Linked DNA regions of Homo sapiens: region 2 is linked to region 1. Evidence: fine-mapped expression QTL. A gene starts in region 1. The other region holds a variant in brackets. All regions are shown on one strand. Distances are from middle to middle. Region 1 holds the start of GLYATL2 (glycine-N-acyltransferase like 2). Region 2 has its middle 35 kb from the start of GLYATL2.

Region 1 (5,392 bases):
CTAGAAATGTTGTCTGGGAGCTGGGGCCTGGAACGGGGGCCTCACAACTCTATTTGGTGCCTTATCCTGTTGTGGCTGAGCTGATATCCAAGATGCAAGATGAAGTTCGCCTTACTGTTTCTTTTTCATTCCTCAAGCAGAGGGAAGGAGTCTCTTTAGCAGCTGTGAGCTATGCAGCCTGGGGTTAGGGAAGAGGTGATACCAGCTCTCCTTTGACTGACCCAGCTGGTGTCTCAGTATGTCAAGTGTCCCCCCAGTCCACAATTTCTGAGCCTAATTCAGCACTAGGACTCACTTAAGAGTTGCAGTCCTTATGGTTTACACTGCCTTTCACGTTTACTTGGAAACACAGAGAACTTTAGGCCCTCTGTGGTGAGGTTTTCAGTCACTGAAGTTTTGACTGCTGGGATTGGTGATTCCCCTCGGGTTAGGACTGGTTTAAATGCTCCCTCTGCCTCCATGGGCAGGTGTCAGCTGAGTTTGGTCTAGTTTTCCTTTGTGTCTAACATGACAGCAATGAGTTCAATGCCTCATAATTGCTGTGTTCTTTCTACCCCCGTGCCCAGAGATATACTGTGCACCACACTACTGCTACTGAGGTTGGGAGGGATGGGGATTGGTGATTCAAGACTGTTTTTTACTGTCTCTTCAGTGCCTCTTTCAGGGATATGAAGTCAAAACCAGGTACTATGAGTGCTCACTTGATTTTTGGCTCTCATGAAGGTATTTTTTTCTGTGTAGTTGTTAAGTTGGTGCCTTGTGGGGTATGGGGAAATGATTAGTGGAGCCTTCTATTCTGCCACTTGCTTTGCTTCTCCTCCCCATTATAAACTATATAAAAAAAATTTAATGGCTCAAGAAATTACTTAAGTAATACTCAGTATAGAAAAAAAATATGTGTTCTCTCAACTATCCACAGTTTGCTGTCAATTATGGAATAAAACATATGTATTGACTAGTTGAAATGGACCATTTTTTAAAAAGGATGATTAGTTTACTGTATAACTCTATAAACTTTGATATGTATTTAACAAAATAATCGTTTACAATTATGAATATGTAAAATTCTTTGATAGATTATGTGAACCACTTTTGGTTCAAAAAGTAGAGTAACTAAAACTATAAAACTCAATGCCTTACATAGCAAGAATGTGTAGATAGTATTAAATTATCACTGATAATTTTTATATGTCATCTGGAGTAGATGATTTAGGTTTGTAAGAAGATATAAACTGCCTAAGGGTAGAGAATCACTCTCTATGGAATCATAGTGTCATTAAAATAATTCGATATTTGGCCTCATGTTCCAGACATTGCCACTGGTTAGTTTTGTGACCTGGGGGAAGACATTTATTTTTTTCTCAGCAACAGCTTCCTTATTTGTGTAAAAATAACTCTTGCTTTTCTCATGCTATAAATGATTACAATTTGTGAAGTTTCTTTCACTTCCAGAAAGTGGGTGAATTTTTTTTTAATTAGAGATAGTATCTCACCCTGTTCCCCAGGCTGAAGTGCAGTGGTGAAATAGCTTACTGCGATCTCAAGTTTCTGGGCTCACGTAATCTTTCCATCTCAGTCTGCTGAGTAGTTGGGACTATAGACACATGCCACTACATCTGGCTAATTAAAAACCAAAATTTTAAAGACTGGGGTTTTATTAGGTCGCCCTGGCTTGTATCAAGTTTTTGCCCTCAAGCGACCCTCCTGCCTGAGCTTCCCAAGTAGTTGGTATTACCGATGTGAGCCACTGCACCCAGTATAAAAATTTTATAACTTATATTTTCCCATGTTTTAATCTCAATGTCTTCAAAATGTAATGTTGATCAGATTCTTTTAGATAGCTTTTTATAACATACAGATTGCCAGGCACTCTGGGAGCCTCTGATTTACCTGATCTGGAAAAGTTCTTGTATTGTTAACAAACAAGCCTAATTGATCTTGAAGGAGGTGGTGTGAGGAACACACTTTGAAAAACAATGTTTGTCTCTATTCCACTACAAAGCTAATTCCAGTCCCCCTGAAACTTTTCTCCAGTAATTGATTTTTCTTCTTAAACTTACAATGCCCCTCCCTGTTGCTCCACTTTAGACAACCAGAGGACAAGGTATATGAAACTGAGTTCTCATTATTACAGTAACTTCCTTGAGGCATTTTTGGCTTTTTCCAAGCCACAAATGGTTGAAAGTATTAAGCCAAGTATTTTGCATTGAAATCAAACTTTCCAACTCTTTGTTTGCTCTACTGACATCATTTAAATAAGGCTGCAGCTGTGCTATTTTTGCCAACAATGGAAAATTGACTTAATATTGTTCTAGAATAGCCTTTCAGCTACAAGAGGTTATATATAAATCAAAAGCTTCTTGAGTAAAACTTCTTAGAATTGTAGAAGCTGCTCAATATGGAACATATTCTCAGTCCTCCTCTGGTCTACAAAGCCTGTGATTTCTTGTCTATGGACAGAACGTCTGGTTTAATCTACAGGAACCCATAACTTCCTGAAGCTTTATGCTTAACAGTGACAACGTGAGTCAGTTGAATTTTATTGTGTTTCAGTCCGTAGAGTATTAGCTACAGAAACCTTTCCATTGCCATACTGAGAAACTGCAGCAGGCAGTGTGCCTACAGGTCTACAAAGAAACTTCAGGTAAGCAGAATTATTTAGAACAGCCTTTTTATCTTGGCAGTTCAATTAATTTGGATTCTTGTTCTAAATCATTTGTATTTGTTAATTTATTTCTTTTCCCCTGCAAACCCTTGGAAAGAGCACTCCCCAGGGTCTCAATGTTGAGAATGAATTCTTCAAAACCTTTTAGGTACCTGAAACTGGAAATACTTCAGAAAAAGCCAGTGCGTATCCTTTTGAATTTGTAAAATGTCCAAATGCTTTCCTTGAATTATAAGTTATCAATATGCTTGTACCTTTCTCTGACACCCTCTAGATCTCCATAGTAATACTGTTAGCAGAAAAAAAAAATCAATATTCTCCTTGCCTCCAATCCTGCTTCTAAAGTATTAGTGGTTTATTTGCATAGAAAAATCTTCCTTCTTCCTTCTGTGTCATGTGGCTAGAATAAAACAATGCTTTTCTGTTGCCCTCTGCCAAATTTCTCTCCATTCATTGAAACATTTGGCAACTGGTATCCTAATGTTTCTCTCCAACAAACTTCTGCTACATCCTATTCATGTCTGTGGTACCTGAAACTCCCATTCCCTTCTTGGCTCCTACTCTGTTGACTTGGAGTTGAAGCCAACAGCCCTACATCCCAAACTGATCTACCTCTGAGTGCCTCTGACATCTTAACCTCTAATAGTCTAATATCTGATCCCAATCTCCTATTTTTAAGTACATTTTTCCCTGTCTATTAACATTGCTATTCTTTGACTTCATCAAGTACTTTCTTCCATGGCTTTTTCTATATTTTCTTACTTTATTGGTCTCCAACCTACTTTACTTTTTCTCTTCTCTCTCCTGGATGCTACAGTTTGTAAGTTTCAATCTCTCATTTCTATATATTCAAATGCTTTGTACCTTATCTTTTTTGCTACACCAGCCCTGAAAAAACCAACCTTGGTTTGTTTTAATTTGTCTTCTCTGCTTCTACTCTCAGGGAGCTGAGCTCAATATATTGTTGAGTAACACTTCCAAATCATAGTGTCCATCTTTACATTATCCTAAGCATGCTTGCTAGTCCTTGCTAATTCTAGTCCACTCTTTCTCCCATTAACATCAAAAGCCATTTAAACCCTAACTGTTTCCCATAAAATCCTACTTCTTTTTCTCGACACTTTCTTGGCATACTCCCTCACCCACTTACTGCTAAAAAGTGATTTTGGAAATAGGAAAAAATTTTACCTCTTCCAGGAAACAGACATTCAAAAATAACTTGCCAACTCTCTGCTCTTTTTTTCTAACCCTGTGTACTCCCATATAAAATTAGTCCTCACTTAACATTGTCAATAGGTTCTTGGAAACTGCAATTTCAAATGAAACAACATATAACAAAATTAATTTTACCATAAGCTAATTAGTATAAAGAAGAGTTAAGTTCCTACAGCATATTTCTGGTCACAAAAACATCACCAAACTTATAAATAAAGAACCCAAACACTTCTAATATAAAACAATGAACTAAATGGAAACTGCGTATACATTTAATAAATATTAATAAAAACAAGATAATTATTTACCTAATTTTTGGTGAGTCTGTGTGATGGTGGTCACAGTAGTGGTGGGTTAAATTGAGAAATAAATGTTTGCAAAGCAAAAGTTGTAAGGAGCACCTCTTGCCTCTATGAAGTTAAAATTCAATCACAAATATGGTGGCCTCACTGAGTCCTTTGGCACAGCATTGTTTATTGTCATTCATTTGTATGATTATCATAGACTTCATGAATTTTTGTTTTATTATGAATGTTTCATTCATTCATTCATTCATTCATTCATTTTTCAACTGGCTTTTTCCAGTTCAGGGGAGCAAGTGACTGAAGCCTGTCCTGGTAGCTCAGAGCACAAGGCAGGAACCCACCCCAGACTGGACACCTTTCCATCACAGGGCGCACACACACACACACACACACACACACACACACACACACACACAGAGTCTCACTCATCCTGGGACAATTTAGACAGAGAAAATCCATGCAGACATGAGGAGAACAGGCAAACTGCACATAGACAGTAGTCCAGCCAGGAATTGATGTTTTTCTCTTCACCATTGTAATGAAAAGATATTGAACAAAATGACATTATTTGATGACCTGCTGTATACGTACATACATACACCTGCATCTGCATCCATCCTAATTTTTTTTCTGACTTTTCACTGAAAGAAGTATTCTTCCAGTCCAAAACTTAATTTCACAAGTATGCTGAGAATTATCATTGACGATTACATGAATTAATCAACATAAAGAAGCTGAAATAGGGTTGGCATTTTGTATATAAGGTCAATGAATTTCTGTCACCTTTCTATGTCCTGTTTACACATTGGCCTATTAATGACTTACATCTTACCTCTTGTAGTTAGTATAGGTATGCTTAACTCTCATCTAATAAGAGAAATGCCTTTTTTGAGCTCTTGTACCTCTCCTCTGTCCTTCGATATTCTCATGTTCTTCTTCCTTTCCTGGTCAAGCTCTTTGAAAAAGTTACCTTCACTTCCTCACGTTTCATTCCACATCTCTTACCAAGTCAGTAATCAACTCCTAACTCCAAAATGCACTGCCATCTTTAGTACTCATATCTTTTAGCTTCTCAGCAGCCTTTGACTGCTTTGGTCGCTCTTTCCTTGAAGTTGATTGCTCTCCTTTGTGGAATATGCTACCAAAGCCTGCAGAATGGGCAGAATGCTGTGCCATTTGGTTAGTGCACCCATCATCCTAGACAGTG
Region 2 (5,392 bases), 34 kb after region 1:
TAATATATAGAAGTATTAGGCATGCCAATAGAAGTACATCTTATAGATTTATGAAAAACCTTTTTTTCCTATCTTAGACTTTCAGATTCTTAACCTGTTTCACAACCCTAGGCAGTTTTCAGCTAAATAGCCTTAAAATTGCATATTAAAGGAAACAACTCAGGTGAAAATGAAATAGCAAAATTTACATCATAGGGTACACAGAGGAAACGTTTGGTAGTGTTTAAGGGAGATTAAAGATGGATGCCAAATCAAACATAAAATTATATAAATCTATCATAGGATTGTATAAGGAGACCAGTTTTATTTAGGTAGGGACTACCTATCTATTAAATGCACCTCTGAGCTCTGGGCAGAGCCCATATTGAATCCTGGGTCTCCAAAAAAGGAAAATTATTATGAGATTATACCATGTGATGCTTTTATGATGCACTTAAATTTCTTTTTTACAAAGACATTTCTAAATTTCTAGATCACACTCTTCCTTAAAAACCCAATAGTAACCTCTGTTGCGATAACTATTTTTGTCCAAAATAAAGGTAACACAATACAAAAGTAGGCAGTTCAACATCTGAGACAAACTTTTCTGTTTACTTTCTTGGGGTTACATACAAAAAAACAGGTTTCTCCCCTAAAGGGAGTCTGGTACCTTCTTCATTTTCTTTAAGAAACCCCAGGATATTATAAACTATTTGAGGTCCCCCATGCAGCAGAGGGTGCCAGAGAAAAGAGAGACAGCCAAAGTAAGTGAAGAAAACAGAATTCAGTCAACTGAGAAGAAAAAAACTTGTACTGAAAAAAAGACAAGTTCCTAGAAGAAAAACAAAAATAAAAACTTGAAGGCCTTTTAAATACAAACATACACATATGCACACACACACACCTCTTTTTTTAGGGGAATTTAGCCACTTCAGAGGACTTATTCCCCATAAGTTGGAATTTCCTTCAGATTTGATCAAGTCAGATAGAGTCAATCAAACTTAATGGGAAAAAGACTGGAACAACGACAAGAGCAGAAACAAACAACAACAACGACAACAAAAAGTTAAGCCAAACAAATGATTGCACAACTTATATGACTACTGAGCGCTCTAATGATAAGGAGAAATTAAGACCAGCTTGTTGTTAACTTTAGCCAAGACAAAACCTCAATTTAGCTACTTACCTAAGGATGAGTCTCAGGCTGAAGACAGCTGTCTACCATCCTAGAAGCAGAAAAAAAAAACCTCATCTTCCTTGTCAGAAGTGAGCTCAAACTCCACAAAAGAGTTACCCACCTTCCATCATCATGGAAGTAGAAAAACTTGTCTTTCTTGTTGGAATCAAGTAAAACTCCAATAAAAGAGGGAGTTGTACGGCAAAATAAACTTTAGATCTAAACAAAATTTGAGGAGATTAAGGATTCTCTGAAGGGGGTTCTCTCAGACCTCAGCAAATTGTTCTGTTGGTTTGAGTCATAAAGTTAGCTCATGCTGGTATCTGGCACTGAGAGGAGATTTCTCAAAGTTCAGCGACACCTCCACTCAGAATCCCTTCATAGTTACCAAAATGTGAACCCTGAAAATTTGAGACAGGTCTCAGTTAATTTAGAAATTTTATTTTGCCAAGGATGCACATGTGTAACACAGCTTCAGAAGGACCTGACAACATGTGCCCAAAGTGGTCAGAGCATAGCTTAATTTTATACATTTTAGGGAGACATGAGACATTAATCAACATATGTAAAATAAACATTGATTATGTCTGGAAAGGTGGGACAACTCAAAGTTGGGAGAGAACTTCCAAGTCACAGGTATATGAGACAAATGGTTGCATTCTTTTGAGTTTCTGATGAGTCTCTCCAAAGGAGGCAATCAGATATGCATTTATCTCAGTGACCAGAGGGGTGGCTTTGAATAGAATGGGAGGCAGGTTTGCTCTAAGCAGTTCCCAGCTTGACTTTTCCCTTTTGCTTAATGATTTGAGGGGCCAAAGATATTTTTCTTTATTACCATGATGGGTGCTGGAATCTTGACCATCTCAGGTTACAGAAGCATAGGGTCTCCTCAGTTAAGTAATTTACTCATCCATATTTCTTCTCATTCAATAAATAAGTCCCAAATTCTGGCTAATGCCAGATACTATGATTGATCTTGGGGATGCAAAGATGAACAGAACAGTCCAACAGCTGATGATCTCATAAGGGAGACTGGTGATATAAACAGATGTAATAATTTAATATAGAATACCATTACTGGTTATATACCCAAAGGAAATGTAATTAGTATGTTAAAGAGTTATCTGTACTCCCATGATCATTACAGCATTATTCAAAATAGCAAA[G/C]ATGTGGAATCAAACTAAGTACCCATCAATGGATGATGTATAAAGAAAATGTGGTATGTTTTGTACACATATAGTACACCGTGGAATACCATATAGCCTTAAAAAGAAGGAAATGCTGTCATTTGAGACAACGTGGATTAACCTGGAGGACATGAAGTTAAGTACAATAAGCCAGGCTCAGAAAGACAAATGCTTCAGGTCCTCACTTGCAGGTGAAATGTTAAAGTTATTAGATGTAGGGGGTAGAATGGTGGCTACCAGAGGCTGCAGGTAGGGACAGCAGAGTGGGGAGATATTGGTAAGAGAAGATAAAGTTTCAGTGCAGCAGAAAAAAACAAGTCATTGACATCCATTTTACATCCTAGCAACTATTGTTAATAATTTATTGTATATTTCAGAATTGCTAAGGGAGTAAATTTCAAATGTTTTTACCACAAAAATAAGTATGTATGGTGATTGATATGTTAACTAGCTTGATTAAATCCATCCACATTTTATATCCTTTCAATGCCAAAAAGACCATTATAACATATATAATGCTATATTATATTATAACATTGCATTTTATACCATAGATACACATAATTATAAACTCAATACAATTTCTTTAAAAATAAGGTACAAAACTACCGAATTGTCATAAAAAATGCACCTTTTGCATGACTCTAGGGTTCTACTAAAATCACACCAGTCCTTGACAAGACTCCTGAGTCCCTGGATGTGAGGTAGGTGAAGAGGGAGGGTTGAGGATGGATGGATGTATCTTAGACCCTTCATATGGACTGTAAAACAATTTTCTTGCAAACCTAGAACCCTAAAGCTGTCAACCTCTGTTTGCTGCCTGGGAGATATTTGAGATGTTTCCAATGGCTGCTGAAGGTATCTGCCATTTCTTCTTTGGTCTTACTTGTGAATGACTGAGAGTCAATCTTGCATTGGTGCAATTAAAACTCACCCATCAATTTCTACAAACACTTTAGGAGACCTGCTATGTGTCTCTGTGTATTTACTTCACAGAAGGTTCACAGATAATACCATCTGACTTACTTGAGAATGGAATATGATAGTGATAATTTATTTCCTTTTTTTCAAAGAGAAGGGGAAAAATTATTAAATATAGAATAAATTAATGGGCTACTAAGGGAAATTTGGCCAAGTGTTTCACAGATCATTTGGCAAAATATCAAAATGAACTTAAGAAAAAGTTTTGGTGATTAATACCCCAAAACTAAATTTCAGCAAAATTAAAAGTACAGAAACCAAATTGTGGGGCACTGGGGAGAGAGTGTGTTAGAACACTCAAGACCTTTGTCTTTTTGGCTTTGAAAGGATATAAAAAGGGCAAAAAATTAAGGAAAGACTTTTGCTGTTGTTGCCTGATATGGTTTGGATCTGTGTCCCTGCCTAAATCTCATGTCAAAATGTAATCTCCAATGTTGGAGGTGGAGCCTGGTGGGAGGTGATCAGATCATGGGAGTGGATTTCCCCATTGGTGCTGTTCTTATGATAGTGAGTGAGACCTCATGAGATCCAGTTGTTTAAAAGTGTGTGCCACATTCCCCCTTTCTGCCTTCTTCCTGCTCTGGCCATGTGAGTGGTTTGCTTTCCCTTTGACTTTCACCATGATTCTAAGTTTCATGAGGCCTCAACAGAAGCCAAGTCAATGCCGGAATCATGCTTTCTGTACAGCCTGTGGAATAGTGAGCCAATTAAATCACTTTTCCTTATAAATTACCCAGTCTCAGGTATTTCTGTGTAGAGGTGTAAGATTGGAATAATATATTGCCTGAGACAGGAATATTTGGGAGTTGAAGAAACAAAGCAAGGAGAGAGAGAGAGAGAGCTCTGAAGGTATGATTATTGTGAAAAAAGTGGAAAAAAATTTCATTTCAGAGATGAAGAAGGAGATGTCTCCTGTAGCCTAGGTGGACACAGGAGTATTGAGACAAGTTATTTAAGTCAGAGTGAGTGGGGGCTCAAGTACACTTGCAAGCTGTGTGGGCTTTGGATAGTCTTTTGTCATTTCTGTTTCTCAAGTTTTTCAAATGTGAAATGAGAATTTTACTCCTTGGGATGTAATTTGGTCTATAAGTTGCTCAGTACATTGCCAAGTACTTAACATGCACCTAGTAAATGGCAGTTATTATTAGTGTAAATATTTTAAATTTATTTAACAAATATATGTTGCACACCTACAATGCAACAGGTAGTGTTTTAGGATCTGAGACTTGGGAGTAGAAGTGTTGTCTTCTTAGACAAAGTTCATTCTCTATAATCTCTTTATGTTGATTTTGCTTGAAATCTTAGCTGTGTGGCTGAAAAAGACAAGAACAGACTTGGATGTATAGATGTAGGAGTGAGAGAGAAGCAACAATTACATCTCCTTACTCTTTGCCCATTCCATACAGGAGATGATAGACAACTTGGACCACTATACCCCATTTATGATATATTCACCAGGACATCTCAAAAACTCCAGAAAATCCTTGATTTTCTCAGGGTCATCAACTGGTACCAAGCCTTCTGTGATGGTTAACTTTATGCATCAACTTGACTGGGCTAAGGTATGCCCAGAGAGCTGGTAAAGATTATTTCTGGGTGTGTCCATAAGCATGTTTCCAGAAGAGATCAGCTTTGGAATCAGTAGACTGAATAAAGAAGAGTCATCCTCACTGATGTAGGTGGGTATCATTCAATCCATTTAGGACAGAAATGATCAAAGAGGCAGAGGCAGAGTGAATTCTCTCTACTTGAGCTGGAACATTTCTCTTCTCCTGCCCTTGGGCATTGGAACTCCTGGTTCTCAGGCCTTTGGAGTCAGACAGAGAATTACACCATTGGCTTCTCTGGTTCTCAGGCCTTCGGACTTGGGCGGAGTTACACCACTGGCTTTTCCTCCAACTTGCAAATAGCATATTATGAAACTTCTCAGTTTCCATAATACTGTGAGCCAGTTCCTATAATCTGTGTGTGTGTGTGTGTGTGTATGTGTGTGTGTGTGTGTGTGAGAGAGAGATAGACAGAAACACAAGCACACACACAGAGATTGTGATTGGATTGCCATATAGCA

Evidence for each region. PIP is the estimated chance that this variant, and not a neighbour inherited with it, causes the effect.
Region 2: its variant is fine-mapped to the expression of GLYATL2 in whole blood (TOPMed, PIP above 0.99). The same link has a PIP of 0.9 or more in blood mononuclear cells.

Annotation. Positions count from the first base shown.
Region 1 is chr11:58,841,686-58,847,077 of GRCh38, reverse strand. GLYATL2 (glycine-N-acyltransferase like 2) reads left to right here and starts at 2,374. Exons shown (of 6, transcript NM_145016.4): 1 at 2,374-2,644.
Region 2 is chr11:58,807,360-58,812,751 of GRCh38, reverse strand. No RefSeq gene overlaps it. Among named protein-coding and RNA genes, the nearest start is that of GLYATL2, 35 kb to the left of the region's middle. The variant G/C (reference allele first, on the strand shown) is at 2,323.